Homo sapiens: one gene and its partners. Each later gene encodes a partner of the first gene's protein in a complex. Each region holds a gene or a part of one and is shown in the gene's direction. Other genes may lie near its edges.

The links. The genes of interacting proteins can lie anywhere in the genome.
Region 2: UBTF (region 1) and RRN3 share a complex: the UniProt entries of both Homo sapiens proteins name them as parts of the pol I pre-initiation complex.
Region 3: UBTF (region 1) and POLR2F share a complex: the UniProt entries of both Homo sapiens proteins name them as parts of the pol I pre-initiation complex.

The regions. Positions count from the first base shown.
Region 1 is NC_000017.11:44,216,653-44,224,604, reverse strand, and holds the start of UBTF (nucleolar transcription factor 1), read left to right. Parts: upstream 1-4,929; 5' UTR 4,930-5,160; intron 5,161-6,308; 5' UTR 6,309-6,375; coding exon 6,376-6,433; intron 6,434-7,900; coding exon 7,901-7,952. UniProt on the Homo sapiens protein: Recognizes the ribosomal RNA gene promoter and activates transcription mediated by RNA polymerase I (Pol I) through cooperative interactions with the transcription factor SL1/TIF-IB complex.
Region 2 is NC_000016.10:15,070,252-15,077,274, reverse strand, and holds part of RRN3 (RNA polymerase I-specific transcription initiation factor RRN3), read left to right. Parts: intron 1-624; coding exon 625-717; intron 718-2,413; coding exon 2,414-2,552; intron 2,553-4,194; coding exon 4,195-4,325; intron 4,326-6,023; coding exon 6,024-6,154; intron 6,155-7,020; coding exon 7,021-7,023. UniProt on the Homo sapiens protein: Required for efficient transcription initiation by RNA polymerase I (Pol I). Required for the formation of the competent pre-initiation complex (PIC).
Region 3 is NC_000022.11:37,963,697-37,969,833, forward strand, and holds the end of POLR2F (DNA-directed RNA polymerases I, II, and III subunit RPABC2), read left to right. Parts: intron 1-3,402; coding exon 3,403-3,474; intron 3,475-3,866; exon of another isoform or gene 3,867-3,928; coding exon 3,929-4,019; 3' UTR 4,020-5,616; downstream 5,617-6,137. UniProt on the Homo sapiens protein: DNA-dependent RNA polymerase catalyzes the transcription of DNA into RNA using the four ribonucleoside triphosphates as substrates.

The DNA.
Region 1 (7,952 bases):
CTATCTCTGACTTACACAGCAATAAAAAAATAACAAGGGACAGGCCGGGCGCAGTGGCTCACGCCTGTAATCTCAGCACTTTGGGAGGCCAAGGTGGGCGGATCACCTGAGGTTGGGAGTTCGAGACCAGCCTGACCAACGTGGAGAAACCCCATCTCTACTAAAATTACAAAATTAGCTGGGCGTGGTGGTGCATGCCTGTAATCCCAGCTACTTGGGAGGCTGAGGCAGGAGAATCGCTTGAACCCAGGAGGTGGAGGTTGCGGTGAGCCAAGATCGCGCCATTGCACTCCAGCCTGGTCAATAAGAGTGAAACTCCGTCCCAAGGAAAAAAAAAAAAAAAGTAACAAGGGACAATAACATTCTTGGCCCAAAAACGTGTGTCTTTATACCATCTTAAATAAAAATTTAAAAACAGAACATTTCCAATATGCATTAAAATACATAAATCTGAAAATATTGGTATACCATCTAAAATTACTCCCTGTAGACTGGTAATTTAAGTACCACACTTTGGTTAACGCATTCCAGGCACTCTGGGGGTTTTATATAAGCTGGTGCTTGGATGCTGGCAACCTGGGGAAATACTGAGGCCAAGTGGAAATTGTGTAGCTAGGATCCCGCTTTGTCACCAGCCTGGGCTGGGGTTATTGAATGCCAGCGCTCTGCTTCAAGGCACATGCCAGAAGGCTGGAGGGTGAGGAGGGAGATGAACTGGGAAATGGGGCAAAGAAAAAGGGCCAAGGGCAGATTCCTCATACTCTGGCCGTTAGCCCAAGTCTTGGACTCCTGACCTCACCACAGACGAAATAGATGTAAAACAAGCCAATTCGTTTCCAAGTGGGAAGGGTGCCAGCCATAGTTTTTGCTGCCCAAGGAATCAATAAATACTCATTCTTATGATTCATGTTCATCCTGTTTTATTCCAAAGCACTTTACCGAAAAGCCCCTTGGCCCAGCCAAAAAGTTCAGGGCCAGGAGCCAGGACACCTGGACTCCAGATCTGCATGTGGAAGATTTGGAACGTTATTGGTGGGGGGGGGTCTCAAGTTCTCTGTAATGTGGCAAGTGCCATCTGTGGAGGACTTTACAATTTTACATACATCATCTCATTTGGCCTTCTGATCCCTGGTGAGAGAAGCAAATTAAACAGGATTGCTATTCTAACTTTACAGATACGAAACTGGGACCAGGGAAGGTTAATAAGGCACTCAGATTCACACACTATTAAGAAGGTGGGGAAGTTGGGACTTTTGATTCCAAACCCTTTGCTCTTTCCTAGTCAAAACAATAAAGTCAGTTCTATGCCTCACTTTTCCTTTTTTTTTTTTTTTTTTTGACATATTATAATAGGGGGTGTGTGTGTTTGTAGAGGCAGCATCTTGCTATGTTGTCTAAGCTGATCTCGAACTCCTGGGCTTAATCACTTAAGACCTCCTGTCTTGGTCTCCCAAAGTGCTGGGATTACAGGTGTGAGCCAGTGCGCCTAGCCCACCATGCCTCACTTTTAGCGCAGTGTGATCCTACACAAATTGCCCTGTGTATATTCCAAGGGACGATCTGGGTTTGTAGGGCCAGAAACACGTGCAGTTCTGGGGTAGCGGGGAGGTGGTCGGTGGCTCTTTTAACAAAAAAATACCAAATGATGAAAACAAAATTAAGTTCAGGGCCTTGGGCAGGTCCTGCAAGTTAGGGGCCTAGAAGCTGAAATTTCATTAACATCTACTAGTGGTAAATCCGCTTCTCCTACATGCCAGTGCCCTCTGGGAAAAAAAAAAAAAAAAAACAGGACACACCAGATCTTGACAGGGCTTCCTCCCTGTTGGTGAAACCTGATAGAAGTGGGATGTGGAAGTCCTGGGAAAGCAATCTCATTTCTCCCAGGAGACAAGAGGAATTACAGCAGCAGCGAGGCAGGCCGAGTGAAGGAGAAGGCTGCGTGCCAGGGGAGAGTCGAAAGGGGCTGGGTGACCCAGCTGGCCGAGATGCGGGCAGTAGAGCGTCGGTGTGGGAGACTGGCAGCCTGAGAGCCAGGAGCAATGGCGCTGCCCCAGGAGCGGTGGCTGGAGGCTGGGCCCGTTGGAAGCAGGCTTCCTTCAGATGGTCTTCTGGCTCCCTGCGTCCTGTCCTGATAACCTTTCCTCTGAAAAGGGGAGGCAAAGACAGTCAACCACGGCCGTGGCAGTGGGAGAGTGGGTGGTGGACCCTGTCCAGGCCTTTCATCCCCGGCCTGCAGGACAGTGAACCAAGGGACGTCTTGTCGGAGGCTGCCCCGCTGCCACCCGGGGCAGCGAGAACCGGGTGCTGGGCTCCCCTCGCGGCTGCCCGCCGCCGCCGGGGGGCAGCGCCTGCGGCCTGCTTTCCTAGGGATGGCCGAGGCTTTTTGACAAGCTGATTGCGTGGCGGGGATTGGCTGGTCCGGGTGTGACGCCGGTAACAACAAAGGTGGAGTTGGAAGAAATTAGATTAAAGGAGAGGAAAAAAATTAAAGGGGGAGCTGGCATAGGACAGGAGGTAGAGACCGAGGGAGAGATGCGCCAAGCGGTGTCTCCCGGTTCCAACTCCCCCCACACCCGCCTCGACCCTAGAAGATCCCTCGCGCAAACCCACTGGGATTTTGCTCTTTCCCCTACCCCGGCCCAGTGACCGACGCCGGGGTAGCTGCTGCTTCTTGAAAAATCCCCGCAACTCCCACCCCGACACCCGTCACTACGACCCAGGGGGAGAACTTTTTGCTCGGACTCCTCGGATCCTAAACCCAGCGAAACGGGACATTGAGAAGCTTGTCCTAAAACCCGGAAGGCCCTTGCGGAGCATGGAGATCGGATAAGGCGGGGTGCTCCCCCGGTTTTCCGATGTGTTGCAAATCTAAGAGCTTCTTTCTCGCTTTTTTTTTCCCTGTAACTACCCCCCCCCCCTTTTGCTTCAGGGTTGCAAAAGCAAAGAGCAATTAAAAAAAAAAAACCGCGCACACACTCAGACACACACCAGTGGCGACAGGGGAGAGTTGGAAAGACGCAGGAGAGAAGCAGGAGGCAGGAGGCAGCGGGGATGGAGCAATGGGAGCGGGAAGCAGGCAGGTTTCCTTGCAAATCCCCCTCCGGCCTCACGCCGTCTCGCCGGCCCCGGCAGGGGAGCGAGGACCCCGGCGAACAGATGGAGGAGTGGAGCTCGCTCTAGGCAGCTGGGCTTGGCCGGAGAATGGAGGAGCCACCAAGCGACCGGCTGATTGGAAGAGAAACGCAGAGCGATGGAGGCGGGGTAGGAGGACGATTTCTCTGCGGGGACTGGCGGCGGCGTACACGCCCGGGTCGGGCGCTGCAGAGCTTGGCTGGCTTTCAACCCGCGCTCGCCGGCTCCAGCCCCGCGCGCCCCCACCCCTAGCCCTCCCGGCGGCTCCGCAGGTGAGTGCGAGCTGGGGGCAGAAATATCCAAAAGTCTCAACATGCCCGCCCTGCAAAAAGAAAAAAAAAAGACGAAAACCATTTTTCTTTAAAAAAAAAAAATTTTTTTTGTGCAACCCCTAGAGCAGTGGGAGGGAAGGGGTGAGGCTGAGCCGCCCGGAGGAGGCGGAGGGGCCAGGCGAGGCCGGGGTGGCCCGGGAGGCGGCGGCGCCGAGGCGGCTCTGACGGGCAAGCGCTCGGAGCGGCGCTGCGCTGCGCCGAGGCGGGCGGGCGGGCGGGCGGAGCGGGGCGGGCGGAGCGCGGCGCGTGGGGCTCGCCATTAGCCGTCGCTCCGCTTCGCCATCTCGGGCTTTGTCTGGCGACTCGCTGCCCCGGCGTCGGCTGCAGCGGAGCTGCGGCTCGACTGTTCGGCCCGCCGTGCTCCCAGGTGCCCCCGGCCTGCGCTCCCATCCACACGCTCGGTAAGTGAGCCCGGGAGCCGCGGATTTCGGGGGAGAGGGGTTGCTACGAGTGGCGGCGGCGCCGATCTTCATGCGCCCGGGCAGGCCTGGAGAACCATGCCGGGCTGGATTGAACCGGCTCCCACAGCGGCCCCTCCGCCGGAGCCCGTCGTTCCCTTGCCGTTTCCGGGGTGTAAAGAGCAACGGGGATTTTTTTTTTTTAATGCAGAGGTTTTAGTTTTCGGGTTTTTTTTTAAGTTTCGTATGTGCCGTTCGGCAAGGAGAGGACCGCGAGGTAGGCACCGAAGCTGGACGCCGCGATCGGCGTGCGTGCGCCCCAAACCAGCGGCCACGCTCCGGGGGATGAGGGTGGGCGCGGACCGCTCGCTCCGGGAGGCGGGAGAGAGCTGGCCTGGAAGCCCTAGTCTGAGCTGGGAGAACTTGGGGGAGAGCTCCGGAGCAGGGCTGTGGGCGCCCCCCGAGCCTCCCCGGACGCCGGGGGCACCTCCGGGCACCCTCTCCGCGGCCGCACCTCGGCCCTCCCTCGCCGGCGAAGCCTGCTAGTTCCCCCGCGGGTCTGGCGAGGTCGCTCTCGGCGCCCGCCCGCCCGCCTAGGCTCCGAGCCCCGCCGCCATCCGGGCGGCTGCGTGTCTCCCTGCCCCGGCCCCCCCCCCCTTCCCCGGCGGCGGCAGCAGCAGCAGCAGCAGCCGCCGCCGCCGCCAGCACCACCACCACCACCCCCCTCCCCTCCTTCCTTCCCTCCGCCTCGGCCGCCCGGGTCCCCCCAGCTCCCGCCCCTCCTCCCAGCTGCCCCCCGCGGAGCCCGCCCGGGCAGGCTGTGGGAGGGAGCGGAGCCGGCGAGGCGGGCGGGCTGGCGCTCGCTCCCCGGGGGTCGGTGTGCGCTCTACGGGGAAGGACGCGCTCGCTGCCCCGCTTCTCCCGCCCCCCCTCCCGCTCCTCCTCCTCCCTTCTCCCTCCTCCTCCCCGCTCCGGCGGCTGAGGCTGCGGCGGCGGCGGGGGGTGTGCGAGCTGAGGCCGGGGCCGGCGGCGGGCGGGCTGCCTGCAGGCGGAGGGCGCTGTGCTTTGTGCTTTTCGCCGCGAGGAGCAGCAGGCAGCAGCCACAGCCGCCGCCGCCGCCGCCGCCGCCACAGCAGCAGCAGCCGCCGCCCCAGCGCCGCCGCCTCGCCCGGAGGAGGAGCCGCTGCCGCCGCGGGAGGGAGCTGCGGCTGTGCCCGGCCGAGCGGGGGAGGGCGCCGCCACTCAGAGCCAGGGAGGGAGCCGCTGGAGCGGGAAGCCCGGAGGCCGCGCTGCGCCGGGTAACCGAGGCGGCTGAGGACGCGCGCTGGGGTCGGGGCCGGACGGCGGGAGCGAACCGCGGGGTGCGGTGGGCGCCCAGCGGGGACCCGAAGCGACCACCGAGCAGGCGACCGGGCGCGAGCAGACCAGGGCACTTGGGAGGACGCCGAGAGCCGGGGGAGGGGAAGGCAGGAAGCGAGGCCTGAGCCGAGCCCCGGCCGCTGGCGGAGGAGCCCGCGCTTCTCGGAGCCGGCAGGCGCAGTTCTCCCCGGCCGCCGGAGGGGGCGGCGGGGCCGGTGAGCGCTGCGCCCCCGCCTCCCGGCCGCCGTCCTCCCGCCCTCTCCTTGGCTCGGCTCCCCGGAGGCCGGGGCGGGGGCGCCGGCGGGGCTGGGCCGCAGGCTCGGGGGAGGAGGCGGCGGTTCCCGCCGCGGTCGCGCCTCTGTGCCGGGCTCCTCCGTGCGCGTCGGGGTGGCTGGGCGGTGGCGGCGCCTCTGGCCGGGGTGGGTGGCTCGGGGGCGGGGGGCAGGCTAGGCCGCTTCTCTCCGGCTGCTTGCCCGCCTGTGCGGGCGGGGACGGCGAAGGGAGCCCGGGAGGGGGGAGCGGCGGGAATCCGGATCCGGTCCCCGGGGGCGGTGCGGCCGCTCCGCTCCGGGGCTGGCGGCGGCTGCGCTGCGTCCGGGTCCCCGCCGGGTTGCGGAGGCGGGGGGAACCGGCCGGGGGGAGGCGGGAGGAGGAGACTGGGGCGCGTGCCCGCTTCCGTGGCCGCGCGCGCCCTTTACCCGCCCTTCCTCTTCCCCCGCCCTCCAGCCTGGGGCCTCCCCGGGGCGGGCGCTCCGAGGAGGAGGAGATTTTTTCTTTTTTTTTTTTTTTGGCTGGGGTTGGGAAGCGGGGCGGAGGGCGGGCGCTCGCTGCACGCGGGAGCTAGGAGCAGGCCCTCGCGTGGCCAGGGGAGGGCGCGCGCCGCGGAGCCGGGCTGCAGGGGCTGGGGGAGGGGGTCACGAGGAAGAGGAGGGGCGCACTCCCATTCCCATAGACCCCTTAAGTCTAATAAGGTCATGGCTGAGTCTCTCAGAGTGTGGACCTGCCCCCTTCTACTCTGGGCGGTTAGAAAGTCGTTAGTCGTTCACCTCTCAGCCTTCCTGAGTGGGAACTGGTATGTCTTCCAAAGGGTGAGGTGGCTTTGACCCCGGGTTGCCCGGCCAGCACGACCGAGGAGGTGGCTGGACAGCTGGAGGATGAACGGAGAAGCCGACTGCCCCACAGACCTGGAAATGGCCGCCCCCAAAGGCCAAGGTAGGGGCATCCACCCCCGGCCCTCTGAAACTTAAACCCTCTTTCCCTCGTGGCTGCGGGGCTCACTCCCTTCTTCAAGGGCTTTTTCAGTCTGCATACACTGAACTGGGGGAGAAAGTGCCTTGAGTATTTATGAATCAAGCATCTCCCACACTTGGGGTTTGGCTGAATCCAAATTATTTGGCCTGGAGTGGCTCACCTCCCCTCTCTCCCTGTCCCTCACCCTCTGTGTTAGAGGAGGCCTGCCTTCTGGGGTTCCCATTCAGCCTGAAGTGTGTCCCAGCCCAGTGTCCTGGAATGGGAGGAAGGATGAGTGTAGAGGAAGGGTCAGGAAGGGGTTGGGGAAGGCTTCTCAGGCTTTTTAGGAAGACCATGAGGCTTTTGTAGAGGCAGGTGGAGAAAAGGGCTGTTTTGGTGGTTTTAGGCCCCAAGCCATGGGATATATGTACTCAACTAGATCTCTGCCTCATTCAGCAGTGATCCAGTCTAGATGGGGATAGAGAGTAGGATGAAGCTGGACAGCTGGCCATGCTTGTGGGACATTGAGGGGAGAGGGGATTATGGGTCCACGTGGCCCATTCTGCAGAATCTCTGGCCCAGGTTACCAGATGCAAATGAAAATGGAGAGCCCTTTTGACTTCTGGCCTTGGGTGGCTATTCTCCCAGCCCATCCACAGTGGCCTAGAGCTCTCTGGGGCTGCATTTCAGTGGCTGAAAAATAACTGTTCCAGACCTGTTCTTGCTTCCCTGGGTAGTTGGGCTGACAAGACAGCTTGTAATTCTGGGGGTTCTCCCTGGAGCAGGGCCCTGAGAGTTTCTGTGCACCTGCCTACCTTGCCTCAGAGCTGCCCTGTATCCTGCTTCTGCTTCTGTTTCCTTTTTCTTATTTGCCAGAAATTCTCCCTTGATCTGCTTTAAGGGGCTAGGGGGTGGTGGGTGTCTCTAACATTGGTTTCCAGCTGTGCAGGAGAGACATCTGCATGGATTTTCCTTACTGTCCACACCCCATTCTCAGTCGTTGCACATTTAGAATATCCACTCAGAACTTGAACTTGGCAGCACATTTAGATATATTGCTTCCCTGCTTCCCTCCTTCTCTGACAAGCTACCTCGTTTCCCACAAAGCCCTGAATCACTGTACCTTCATTTCCACCCCTCTTCCCCTTACAGCAAATAGCTGCCCGTTGCAGCTTGGCACAGTATAAATGATAATAGCCTTGAAGCAAGCCAGACTTGAGTTCGAGCCTGGCTTTCTAGGTATAGCATGGTCTGGACTGGAGTCCCTGCCCTGATCCAATATGGCCACAGTTTCCTTAGGGCTGAGCCATATCTTGTCTGTGCCTTCAGATGGGAAGCAACCAGGGGCTGGGATGCCCTAGGGAGGAAGAGTTGAGCACTCAAGAACTGGGGAACAGATCGGGGGGATAGCATGAGCCAGGCATGATGGCCTCTGTTACTCTTTACCAGACCGTTGGTCCCAGGAAGACATGCTGACTTTGCTGGAATGCATGAAGAACAA
Region 2 (7,023 bases), on another chromosome or scaffold:
AGGCGCGGTGGCTCATGCCTGTAATTCCAGCACTTTGGGAAGCTGAGGCCGGTGGATCACCTGAGGTCAGGAGTTCGAGACCAGCCTGACTAACATGGAGTAACCCCATCTCTACTAAAAATACAAAATTAGCTGGGCACAGTGGCACATGACTGTAATCCCAGCTACTCGGGAGGCTGAGGCAGGAGAATCTCTTGAACCTGGGGGGCGGAGTTTGCGGTGAGCCGAGATCTTGCCATTGTATTCCAGCCTGGGCAACAAGAGCAAAACTCTGCCTCAAAAAAAAAAAAAAAAGTGATTTGGGTGGGGACACAGAGCCAGACCATATCAGAGCTAGAATAAATGTTGAATTTGTTGAGGCTGCCTGGCATAGAGCATCATGTGATAGTTGTCGATTTTATATAAGTATGTAGTAAAAGGGGCTTGGTTTATTATATTTAAATTCCTTCATGACCTAGGTCAGTTTACAGGCTTGCACCATAATTGTGTATTGTGTTGGGGTGTGATATAAGGCACTAATCTGGACACCTTGAACATGCGTATATCAGATGAATTTCCATCCCAAAATAACATAGTTGTATTTTTTAAATCCTTTTATTCTTTTTTTTTCTCCCTTTGTTATAGGTGAATGCATCCCGGCAGGGTATTGAAGATGCTGAAGAAACAGCAACTCAAACTTGTGGTGGGACAGATTCCACGGAAGGATTGTTTAATATGGTTAGCAGTTTATTAATGAAAGTGGAGATGAAGTTTATCATAAAGGGTGGAAACAGCTAGTGCTGCTCATCTTTGTTAAGGCTTTAGATTGAAAGAATTAAAATAGTTCAGCAAACTTGAAAACGATTCCTTATATGAGTAATTTGCTGCCATGTCATTTAGCACTTAGCATAGTTGGTCTATTTCCAAGGCTTTGAATTTGGGTTTGGTGAAGTATGTTTCACTTTTGTTCTTGTAACTTTCAGTGTTTGTTTTTGTAAGCCAGATGCTGTCTGTGAGGGCGTGGTTAATAGAAAAGCATACCTGTTTAATTTCTGCATTTTACCACTTGTACACTTTATAGCATTACTTCTTTTGGGTGGTATCTGAAGTTGGGTTCAGTGGAAGGAGAGTCTGAGACAGGGATTCAGGTGCCCTTGGGACAGAGGGTGTCAGGGAGCAGAAGAGGGCAGGGGAGCTAAACGGGGGCCGGGTCTCACTTGGGAGGTCGCTACAGCCTGCTCCCACCAGGCATTCTGGGGCATGGATTGGTCTACAGAGTTTGTTCCCAGCTTGAGACCAAGGAGATGTCCTTTTCTGATGCCTTGTCAATCAGTCATTGGTTCTAAGGGGGAGGGGCTGGAAAGAGTGCAAGGGTGGTCCTGGCTCCTTTCTGCTCAGGGCAGCTCTGGAGAAAGTAGGCGGCTGTGAGCTATTGGCCGCCAGTACTCACAGCAGTGGGGAGGTGGATATCCCGACCTGCAAAAGGGGGCCCGGCACCAAAAGCACCCGCCATGGTGGGCACCAGGAGCAGAGGTAGGGGGCATCTGTGATTTTTGCATGGATAGGTCTCATTGGGTCTTCTCAATGAGAATCAGAAGCTGGTGCTGTGAGTCTTGGCTTTTATTTTAAATTTCACTGGTGGTTCTGATTCACATCCCTGAATGAGACCCCTGCCTGGAAAGGTGTCTGCATTTCTTTCTTTCTTTTCTTTCTTTTTTAATTTGAGACAGGGTCTCACTCTGTTGCCCAGGCTGGAGTGTGGCAGTGTGTGATCTTGGCCCACTCCAGCCTCGACCTCCTGGGCCCAAGTGATCTGCCCACCTCAGCCTCCCCGAGTAGCTGGGACTACAGTGTACCACCGCACCCAGCTACTTTTTTTCTATTTTTGTAGAGACAGGTCTCACTGTGTTGCCCAGGCTGGTCTCAAGTTCCTGAGCTCAAGTGATCCTCCTGCCTTGGCCTCCCAAAGTGTTGGTAATTATAGGCGTGAGCCACTGTGCGTGGTCCATTTCTTTGTTTTAGTTTAGTTTTTTTTTTTTTTTTTTGGTGGGGCACAGAGTCTTCCTCTGTTGCCCAGGCTGGAGCACACGAACTCGGCTCACTGTAGCCTCCTCCACCTCCCAGTTCAAGCTATTTTCCTGCCTCTGCCTCCTGAGTAACTGGAATTACAGGCGTGCACCACCATACCTGGCTAATTCTTGTATTTTTAGTAGAGACAGAGTTTTACCATGTTGGCCAGGCTGGTCTCAAACTCCTGACCTCAAGTGATCCCCCCACCTCTGCTTCCCAAAGTGCTGGGCTTATAGATGTGAGCCGCTTTCCCCAGCCTCTTTGTTTTATCTTTTAAGGGAAATAATCACTTATGACAGTTTTCCTACTAAACCACTTTGACATTGAATTTTTTAATGTTAGTATTTACTTTTTGTCTTCAAAGGATGAAGATGAAGAAACTGAACATGAAACAAAGGCTGGTCCTGAACGGCTCGACCAGATGGTGCATCCTGTAGCCGAGCGCCTGGACATCCTGATGTCTTTGGTTTTGTCCTACATGAAGGATGTCTGCTATGTAGATGGTAAATCACAGTAGCTACTGTTTATTGAACACCTGCAGTGTACCTGGCTTTGTGCTGGGCATTTTCCATCCATTATCTCTAGTAATACTAAAAATCCTGTAAAAATATCTATTGAGTATGAGTTTAAGATGATTTAAAGAGGTCAAGTTACTTGCCAGTCACATAGCTTGAAAATGGGACTGGGATTCTGGCTGAGTTATATTTGTCTTCTGTCTTTTCACTGATTGTTGTATTGAAAGATTATATATGGAGTTTGGCCAGTTTTAGATCAAATTACGCTCAAGTTGCTGAATGCACTGAAGAATGATGTAGGGTGCACTAATATATGGTGCTCCGTTATGTATTGAGTTTAGAGGGTCTTTGCCTGGCACCATTGTTGTGCCAGTGTTAGTACTATATGTGCTTCTTGACTTCATGGAACTTTAAAGGCTTTGCCAGGCGAAAACAGAATTTTTTTCCATTCACATTGCTAAGATTTAAGATGAGCTCAGTGAGTCAGAATAATAGAACTGGAATCTGAGTTGACTGCATTACTGTTTTAACGGTCTTGCTGTTATAAAAATAATACATGTTGATTAGAGAATTTGGAAACTACAGGAAAGGATAAAAACAATTTAAATGGCCACATTTCTACTCTTCAGAGAACCATTGTGAGCATTTTGAAGTTTGACTTTTTTCCCTTTTCTGTTAGCGTCTGTATATGTAGGAGAGTATTTTTTAGTGAATTTGGGTGTCACACTAAACACAAGTGTTTCATAATCTGCCCTTTACATGGATGCTGAAGATAAACATTTTCTCATATCATTGCCTGTTTTAAAATAATTGTTATTGAATCCCAGCACTTAGGCCAAGGTGGGAGGATCACTGAGGCCAGGAGTTCAAGACTAACTATCCTGGGCAACATAACAAGACCCCATCTCTAAAAAAAAAAGTCGTAATAATAAATGTTGTTGGTCACATGGGTTTAACTGTCTTTTACTGTTTTCACCATGATAAGTAACAGTTATAATGAACATACTTGTGCCTATATATTCAGCTGTTTACTAACAGTAAAATGATCGGATTAGAGGTCTTTTGCTACACGAATGATAGAATTGCTCTTCAGAAGGGTTTGCATTTCTGACCTTGCCACAGTGTGTGAGGTGAGGGCCTGCTTCCTTGCAGGTGTTAGATTATTATATTCAGAGGAAAATCTGTGTAAACTAAAAGTAGCATTTTGTTTTAATGGTATTTTAATGGATAATGTCTGTCTTTCTTTTTTTTTTAAATAGCCACGGTCTTACTCTAACCCAGGCTGGAATGCAGTCGCACAAACATGGCTTACTGCAGCCTTGACCTCCTGGGCTCAAGCGGTTCATCCGCCTCAGCCTCCCATGTAGCTGGGATCACAGGCGTGCCACCATGCCTGGCTAATTTTTTGATTTTTTGTAGAGACAGAGCTTCCCTGTGTTCCCCAGGCTGCCCTTGAACTCCCGGGCTCCCTCTCACTTTGGCCTCCCAAAGTGCTGGGATTGCAGGCAGGAGCCACTGTGCTTGGCTGGATAATGTTGTTTTTTAATGGTGTTGTGTTTATAAAAAATATGGCAGATGAAACTTGAAAATATGTCTTTATAAAAACTGAGATGCCAGATTTTCTCCATAGGTAAGGTTGATAACGGCAAAACAAAGGATCTATATCGCGACCTGATAAACATCTTTGACAAACTCCTGTTGCCCACCCATGCCTCCTGCCATGTACAGTTTTTCATGTTTTACCTCTGTAGTTTCAAATTGGTGAGTAAGAATGTGATTAACATTATCTTAGCTTACTTTGTTTTTGCCCAAAAATTTTCCCTAAAAACTGGGGTGGACGGAGACCATGAAGTAAATAATTCTTTTCTTTGAGCTTACTTGCTAGTCTGCTTAATAAAATCGCATTCTCCTTTCTTTTTTTGTTTTCTTTTCCTTTCTTTTTTGAGACACAGTCTCGCTCTGCTGCCCACTGCTGCAACCTCCACCTCTTGGGCTCAACGGACTCTCAGTCCTTACCCTCTCGATAGCTGGGACCACAGGTTACCATGCCTGGCTAATTTTTGTATTTTTAGAAGAGGTGGGGTTTCGCCACGTTGGCCATACTGGTCTTGAACTCCTGACCACAAGTGATCTGCCCGCCTCCTGCCCCGCAAAGCGTTGGGATTACAGGTGTGAACAACTGTGCCTGGCCCACGTTCCCTTCTCAGTACACTTGGAGAGAAAACAGATTGCTGCCTGCCAGCCCAGCTAGGTGCTCCGAAAATGTCATCCTGCCTTTTGGTCACTAGGTGGTGCTCTTCCCTTAAGCCTTTCTCTATTAAAATCTCATATGGGGTAATTAACTGTATTTCCTTTATTCTTTCCAAGGGTTGAGTTGTAACTAGCCCAAACCAACTTATTAATCTAGAATTTTAAAAACTTTAGGCTTTGTCTTTTCTTCTTCTTCTTCTTTTTTTTTTTTTTTTGGTGGGGGAAAGAATGTAGAAGGCTTTTCCTTCTCTGCAACGATTTTGTGGCTTCCTAGAGATCAGGAGAGTGTTGGTCATGGGAAAGAAGGTTGAATTCAGTCTGCCCACATGGGTGTGCCTAGCTTTAGAACAGCGCTATTTAGGAGAAGTTGGAAGTTACACCCTTTGGTGAGAAGCTGTGTCTGTTTTTTTCCATGATTGGCATAATTAACTCAAATACCAGCTGTGCGTTAGTCCGTATTTCTGTTCGTGGTTGAGTTCAGTGTGTCCAGAGACCGGAAGGTGCTTTGCACTCACAGGAGTGCCCATGTGGAGCTCCATGGGATGTGAATTATTGTTGGTCACCAGTTCTGGCTGACATTGGAATCACTTGAAGAGTTTTTGTAATATGTGGATTCCAAAGCCCTGTCACAAACCTATTGAATTTGTACCTCCCAGGTTGAATTTTTTGTTGTTTTTTGTTTGTTTGTTTTTTGAGATGGAGTCTCACTCTGTCACCCAGGCTGGAGTGTAGTGGCATGATCTCAGCTCACTGCAACCTCTGCCTCCTGGGTTCAAGCGATTCTCCTGCCTCAGCCTCCCAAGTAGCTGGGATTACAGGCACCTGCCACCATGCCTGGCTAATTTTTGTATTTTTAGTAGAGACAGGGTTTCTCCATGTTGGCCAGGCTGGTCTCGAGCTCCTGACCTTGGGTGATCCACCCGCCTCGGCCTCCCAAAGTGCTGGGATTACAGGCGTGAGCCACTGTGCCTGGCCCCGGGTTGATTGTGATGCTTAGCTAGGTTTGGGATCCACTGGATTATTTAACACCCGAGGTGCCTTTTGTTTTTAATGATATTCTCTCAATGTGTTTTAAAAATGAAGCCCATGAGATAGTTATGAGATAGTAGAACTTTTCCCTACATTGGTGAAGTAAAAATCTTGGGATTTTGATAGCCAGATTATCTTAGGCATTAAAAAAGATCACACCGACGCCCTCTCTTTTTATAGGGATTCGCAGAGGCATTTTTGGAACATCTCTGGAAAAAATTGCAGGACCCAAGTAATCCTGCCATCATCAGGCAGGCTGCTGGAAATTATATTGGAAGCTTTTTGGCAAGAGCTAAATTTATTCCTCTTATGTAAGTAGCCTAATTTTCCGAATACTTTTTAATATCATGCTTTAAAAAGAGTATAGCATTGTCTCAAGTCAGAAATATCTCCCATTTTTTTTGGCATGTTTTTAAAGTGAATAAAATCCCTACTCTGTGCAAGATGTTTATATTTCTAAGTGGTGATTTTAGAATAAAGTGTCTCCTTTTTTATATATAAAACCCTGTATGTAAGGCTTTTGTCATCTCTTTTGGTTGCACTTAAAGATCCATTTGTTTTGTGGATAGAGGACAGTGTTGTATACTGTTTTGATTCTTTTTGTAGGTTTGTCATTTTTTCATTTGCATTCCAAATCTATTGTATCTGTTAAAGCTGAAGAAAAACCCTTTTAAAGGTAATAGACCTATCTAGGAGGCCAGTTTCTTCCAGTGGCCCATAAAGATACCTTTGGACAAGGATGCTGTTGAAACCCTTCCCCAACCACAAAATTATTCACCATAGGACTTGACTAGGATGCATCAGGGAATACTGAAGTCCACCAGACTGTCTTTCTCTTGAGAGGTGTTGGTGAACGTGTCCTGTTTGGCCAATCACCTTAAGAGGGGTGCCTTTGAGATGGTTAGGAGAACCTGCTTTCCATCCCTTGGGACGTTCTTAGGGGCTCACCTGTTCCTAGAAGGTCAGAGCTACTCTGCCTTGTAATTGGAAGGTTGTCTTCCTACGCACCCATCCTTATCCTTCCTTTCTTTGCTTTTCCTCTGTACCCATGGGTATTATTTAAAGAAACCTATGAACTTACTTAGCATGGTTTGTAATGAAAGGCAGTTGTGTGTTTTTATGTTATTCTGGTTTTTTTATGATGTGTAAAGTTGACTTGAATTTTTCTTTTCTCTAGTAC
Region 3 (6,137 bases), on another chromosome or scaffold:
ATTCATAAGTTATTTTTAAAACAAATAGACTGCTTATTTGCAAGTTAAACAGTCTTTCAGCACTGAAGAAAGATACTGCATTAGCACTTGATAGGATGCTGAGATGATTAAAGATGTAGTCCCAGCCGGGCGCGGTGGCTCACGCCTGGAATCCGAGCACTGTGGGAGGCCAAGGTGGGCGGATCACCTGAGGTCAGGAGTTCGAGAGCAGCCTGGCCAACATGGTGAAACCCCGTCTCTACTAAAAATACAAAAATTAGCCGGGTGTGGTGGCGCGCGCCTATAATCCCAGCTACTCGGGAGGCTGAGGCAAGAGAATCGCTTGAACCTGGGAGGCGGAGGTTGCACTGAGCCAAGATCGTGCCACTAATCCAGCCTGGGTGACAGAGTGAGACTCTGTTACCAAAAATAATTAAAAAAAAAAAAAAAGACATAATCCCCAGTCCTCCAGGTGTTTTCTGGTGGGGGAGATAGACCTGTGCACAGGTACCCACAACCCAAGGCAGATGCGAGTGGTGCTTTATGAAAGGTACAAAGAGAGTTATTGCAGAGGTGACTGGGAAAGCCTTGTGAAGGGATTAGAATTCTAGTGGGGACAGGTAAAGAGAGTTGGTTTTGTGGGTACTCCAGGTGCCAGAAACAGCCCAAGGAAAGGTCCAGGTGGAGGCAGGCAGTTGTGGATTTGTGATGAGGGATCATAAGCAGCTTGGGGCATAAGGCTGGAGAAGATGACACTGGTCCTGTGAGTGACAGGTTCAGAAGATTAGAGTTCATTTGGTGGGCAGTGTGCAGCACTTAAAGGTTTTGAGGCCAACATCCAGCATCCAGGCCACTCATAAATCCAAGTGTCCTGTTTTTCTTTTCTTTCTTTCTTTCTTTTTTTTTTTTTTTTGAGATGGAGTTTTGCTCTTGTTGCCCAGGCTGGAGTGCAATGGCATGATCTTGGCTGATTGCAACCTCTGCCTCCTGGGTTCAAGGAATTCTCCAGCCTCAGCCTCCTGAGTAGCTGGGATTACAGGCACACGCCACCATGCCTGGCTAATATTTTGTATTTTTAGTAGAGACGGTGTTTCACCATGTTGGTCGGGCTGGTCTTGAACTCGTGACCTCAGGTGATTCACCTGCCTTGGCCTCCCGAAGTGCTGGGATTACAGGCGTGAGCCACTGTGCCCAGCCAAGTGTCCTGTTTTTCTTGGGGAGCAAAGCTTGATCCAGCTCATTCCAGTCTTTAGTGCTCTTTCCACTTAAGGGCTATGACACCATCTGGTGGCTCCTTGCCTGCTGTAAGCTCTTGTACAGCCATAATGGGACTCTGCACTTGGTAGGTGCAGGTGGAGTCTCACTCTGTCACCTAGGCTGGAGTGCAGTGGTGCCATCTCGGCTCACTGCAACCTTCACCTCCTGGTTCAAGCGATTCTCATGCCTCAGCCTCTCGAGTATCTGGGACTACAGGCATGTGCCACCACGGCCGGCTAATTTTTTGTATTTTTAGTAGAGACGGGGTTTCACCATGTTGGCCAGGCTGGTCTCAAACTCCTGACCTCAGGTGATTCACCTGTCTCAGCCTCCCAAAGTGCTGTGATTAGAGGCGTGAGCCACTGCACCTGGCCAGAACAACTGTTTGTTGGGTAGGTTTTGGATGGGGTTTCAGTCTGGTTCATTAGCACCACCTGGTGGCTGATGATGTTTGTCACATCTACTTCTTAACTGGATGGTTGATGTGTTTCTCTGTAGAAGCCATGGTGCAAGAAAAATTAAATTACTTAAGGACACATTCTTGCACATTCCATGTGCATAATAGGTGCGGAATGAGTGAATGCCCTTGAATTATTTATATTTTGAAAGAAAGCAGGCACATGCAGATCAGGTATTTTGCCACATTCTTTAAAGCTTTATATTTTGGGAAAGTTTAAATACTTATTAAGAGAGGATATAGGGAAAGTTAAATACTTCATCTCTGCCCTTGGGAAATTTTCAGGCTTTTGGGAGTAATATAAATCGAAATATTTAGTAATAAAATTAGTAAGCTGGTAGCTCTCAGACTAGCTGATTATCAGAATCATCTGGGCAGTTTTGCAAATGCAGGCTCTCAGGCCGCTTCACTAGAGATTCTATTCCGGGGGTCTGGGGAAGGACCCAGGAACCTGTATTTTTTAGCATGCTCTCCTGTTAATTCTGGATTTGTTGGTGTGAACCTGAGCTGGAATCATCAGGGGTGGCTTCCTAGAGGAGATGGGCCTAGAATTGGCATCCCTTTGCTTGGTGGTAGAGTCCCCACTGTGGGCCAAGTGTTATGCTGGGGGCTGGGCCTCCGTGGTGAATCACATGTGGTTCTGGGCCACTAGGAGCTCATGGTCTAATGTGGAAAGTTTCCAAACAAGTAGTTACAGTTCAATGAGATTGGTGCCAAGAAAAGTATATGCAAAATGAGTCCAGGTACTGAAGAGTCAGCACACGATTTCCAGGGTGGAGACATCTGAACCTCTCGCAGGTTTTTAGGGAGAGGAAGAGCTTGTAAGAGCACACAAAAGGGAAACAACATGGCGCATCTAGGGAACCAGAAATAGTTTGGTATGGCTGGAATGTGGAGTAAATACAGGAAAGTAGCACGGGACTGTGCTAGGAAGGCAAACAGGGACCAGACTGCACTCTGGCCTGATAGCCAAGGGGAGTCATGACAGTGTTGTAAGCAGGTGAGCCCCCTGACTGCTGGCCTCAGGTGAAGGGTGGGGAGGGCTGGGCAGGAAGGGCAGGGCCTCTACTGAGGTGTTGTGTCTATAGAGAATGGAAATGATGCCGGGCATGGTGGCTCATGCCTTTCATCCCAGCAATCTGGAAGGCTGAGGCAGGCGGATTGCTTGAGCCCAGGAGTTCGAGACCAGCCTGGGCAACATGGCGAAATGTTAATTTCACCCATCTATACAAAAAATAAAAAAATTAGCATAGCTGGTGGTGTATGCCTGTAGTCCCAAGCAGGAGAATTGCTTGAGCCTGGGAGGTGGAGGTTGCAGTGAGCCACGATCTCCCCATTGCACTCCAGTCTGGGCAATGGGAGTGAAACCTTGTCTCCAAAAAGTAGAGAGAGAAAATAGAAATTGAAATGAGGTGCACTGGGCACTGAGGCAAGGCTCTGGGGTTGGAGCAGTTAGAATGGTGTGCCTTTGCACATGTCTCCCTTTCCACCAGGACATTCTGCTGTGGCCGCTGGACTCCGGAGTCTGTGATAGGCCTCTGCCAGGGAAGATCTCTGGCAGTGCCCCTACACACCACTCCCTACTGTGCCTGCCTACCTAGAAGATGACGTTTCTAGGTGGGGACCAGGATGCCGTTCCACCCTCACTGCCTGTTGGGCCCTTCTCCCTGGGTTTGTAGTCTCCCTAACACCTGTCCCTATCCCTACAGGATGTGTGCCCCTGTGATGGTGGAGCTGGAGGGGGAGACAGATCCTCTGCTCATTGCCATGAAGGAACTCAAGTAAGTCACTCAAATCATGGTTCACTTCTCCAAATCTCTGGGAGGCATCTGTTGGGCTCTCTGTTGCACCCTTTGCTCCCACTTGCCTGGCTGGAGAAGTTGATGCTTATTCCTACAGATCCTTAGGAACAGCTCACCAGGAAGTAGGAGGAAGAGAGAAGAGGAGGCAGGGAAAGTGGGAGGGCACTGATGAGACATGGACGTCTTCTGGCTGTTGGAATTTCCCTGTTCCTGCTGCAGGAGGCCTTACCAATATTCTGTCATTCTTCCCCCTCTTGTCTGATATAAAAACTTTCTTTTTCTTGTAATTGCTTTCTTACAAAGTACACTCATCAGCCCCAAGAGGCTGCTCCTAAGACTTCTCTTTGCTTGTGTTTTGCACACAATCTGTTCCTTCTGCGGCAGAGCTGGGGTCACCAGCCCTCATGTACTTGTGACTTCTCCCCTGCCACAGGGCCCGAAAGATCCCCATCATCATTCGCCGTTACCTGCCAGATGGGAGCTATGAAGACTGGGGGGTGGACGAGCTCATCATCACCGACTGAGCTGGAGTCATCTTCCTGCCCTTGCCCCATGCCCAATTTTCATTCTCACTTTATATGTGTAAATAATAAAATATTCAACTTTCCAACCCCCTTCCCCTCTGCTTATCTGCAATGTCACCACCTGTTGCTTCCCCGTTACCGCCATGCTGCGTGGAGCATGCACCTATTCCAGTGGCCCTGTGACTGTCAGCTCCTTAAGAAGCACCAGGGGCCCTTAGCCCCTTTGGATCCCCCACATCCTTCCCTCCATCTCCCTGTTCCCCAGAGCAAAGGCTGCTGCAGGGGAGACACCTCAGCTGCCTTCCAAGCAGACAGACAAGTCTTTGTGCCCAGGGAGCTGGTTGCCACGGAAACCCCCAATTTCCTTTCCAGTGGGGACTGGCTGCAGGGGCTTCTCCCTTCTCAGGAGTATCACAGAGCAGGTCTCATCAAGCCACCCATTGTTTCCTAAGGACCTGCTTCGAGCCTCTTATCGTGGGCTCGGATCCCCTTTCAGGAGCAGTGCCCCAGCAGGAAGCGTGGGGGTGTGCTGATCTCCCACCCTCCCCAGGCAGAGCCCTGCTGGGCAAGTCAGCAGCTGGAGCAAGGACCGAGCACCTGCCTACCCCTGCCCCCATGGCTCTGTCCCCACTCCTCCTCAGGACTCTGCCCACACGCTGTCCTCTGTGGCCCACCTCTTTGGTGTGCCACACCCATGCCTTCTTCCTAGCCTCTATAAGATATCCTTTCCCTCCTATTTGGGGCTGGTGATCCCCTGAGGCCTTGGGGACATGGTGCTGGGGTGGTGGTGCTCCTGGGTTCCAGGTGTTACATTAAGTCAGAGCTGGAGTTCCCCCTTCCTCTGCCTGAGGTTCTAATGGGTCCTCTTCCTTTCTCCACCCTGCTTACCCAACCTGAGGTAAGACCAGTCACACTGGCTCCTCCCTCCTAGAGGGGGTCAGGGGGAGGGTGTATATTGACATGAACAGGGATAGAGGGTAAACTGGCTCCCTGAATATGCCAGCCTTAACCTCCATTCCACTGCCAGCTCCCCTTCAAAGAGGAGGAGCTGGGCTTCCCTAACCTCTGCAGGAGGCAGGGCCTCCAGGCCTAGGTGCAGCCTGGCCCTGGGATGGGATGTGGGGAGTGAATGGTGAGGATCTGCATTGGTGGGAGGGGTGTCCGCTGCCCTGGAGAAGGGTTAATTCAGGGAGCAGTGGACTTCACACTCCCATCCACCCTCCTCCAAGCCTGTGGAATCCTTTAATCAAGTTGGGTGCTGAAATTTCAGCTCTGAAATGCCGCCTTTGTGCTGGCATCCAGGCAGCCGCCCCAGAGTGCGGGGGTCACTTTCTCGGCCCCATTTCTCTAAATGGTCTCTTTGTTCCCTGCTGGGCTGCTCAGTATCAGATGTGATTAAAGGGAGATGGGGTTTGGGCTGGGGAGGAGGGGAATTGGGGGTTAACCCTTAGGGGATAGAGTGCAAGGGAAATGGGACAGAAGGGGTGTTTTTCCTCCTGTCTTCCTCTTCCCATTCTCCTCTTTTGGGGAGTCCCCTGCTATTCAGCTGTCTGGGCCTGGCTTTTGACTTCTCTTGAATAAAATGTCCCGGTCACCACTATTGGTTCTGTTTTCTTAGGGTTTGGGCATAGTCTCTTGAGTCATTTCCAGAAACACCTGACCCTTTTTTAACAAGTGGAGCTCCTGCCTTCCTGAGGCCTGTGCACACTTGGAACCTTTGGTCTAAGGGATGCACACAACCCAGGTCTTCTGACTTCCTTGGGGTCATTTCCCCTCCTTCCACATCCTCAGTGATTTCCCACTCACTCTCATGAGATGTGGGGTCTTGGAGGTGATAGTGTCATCTTCCGGATGTGCCCCCTGCTCCCCACTGTGCCAGCTCCATATCCCTCATCCCACGGCGAGCAGGAGTAGTGAACAGACCACAAATGGACAAAAGTCCTGCCTTTCAATGAAGGGGAAAGGGTGGGTTGTAAAGATTATAAACACATAAGGTTAGTACTGATTGATCCATGACAAAATTCTAGAATAGGTCCCTCCATGTTTAAAAGTGCTTATATAATAAAGAGGAGATCGGGCACTAGCATAGGGTGTCTAAGAACCAATATTGCCAAATAA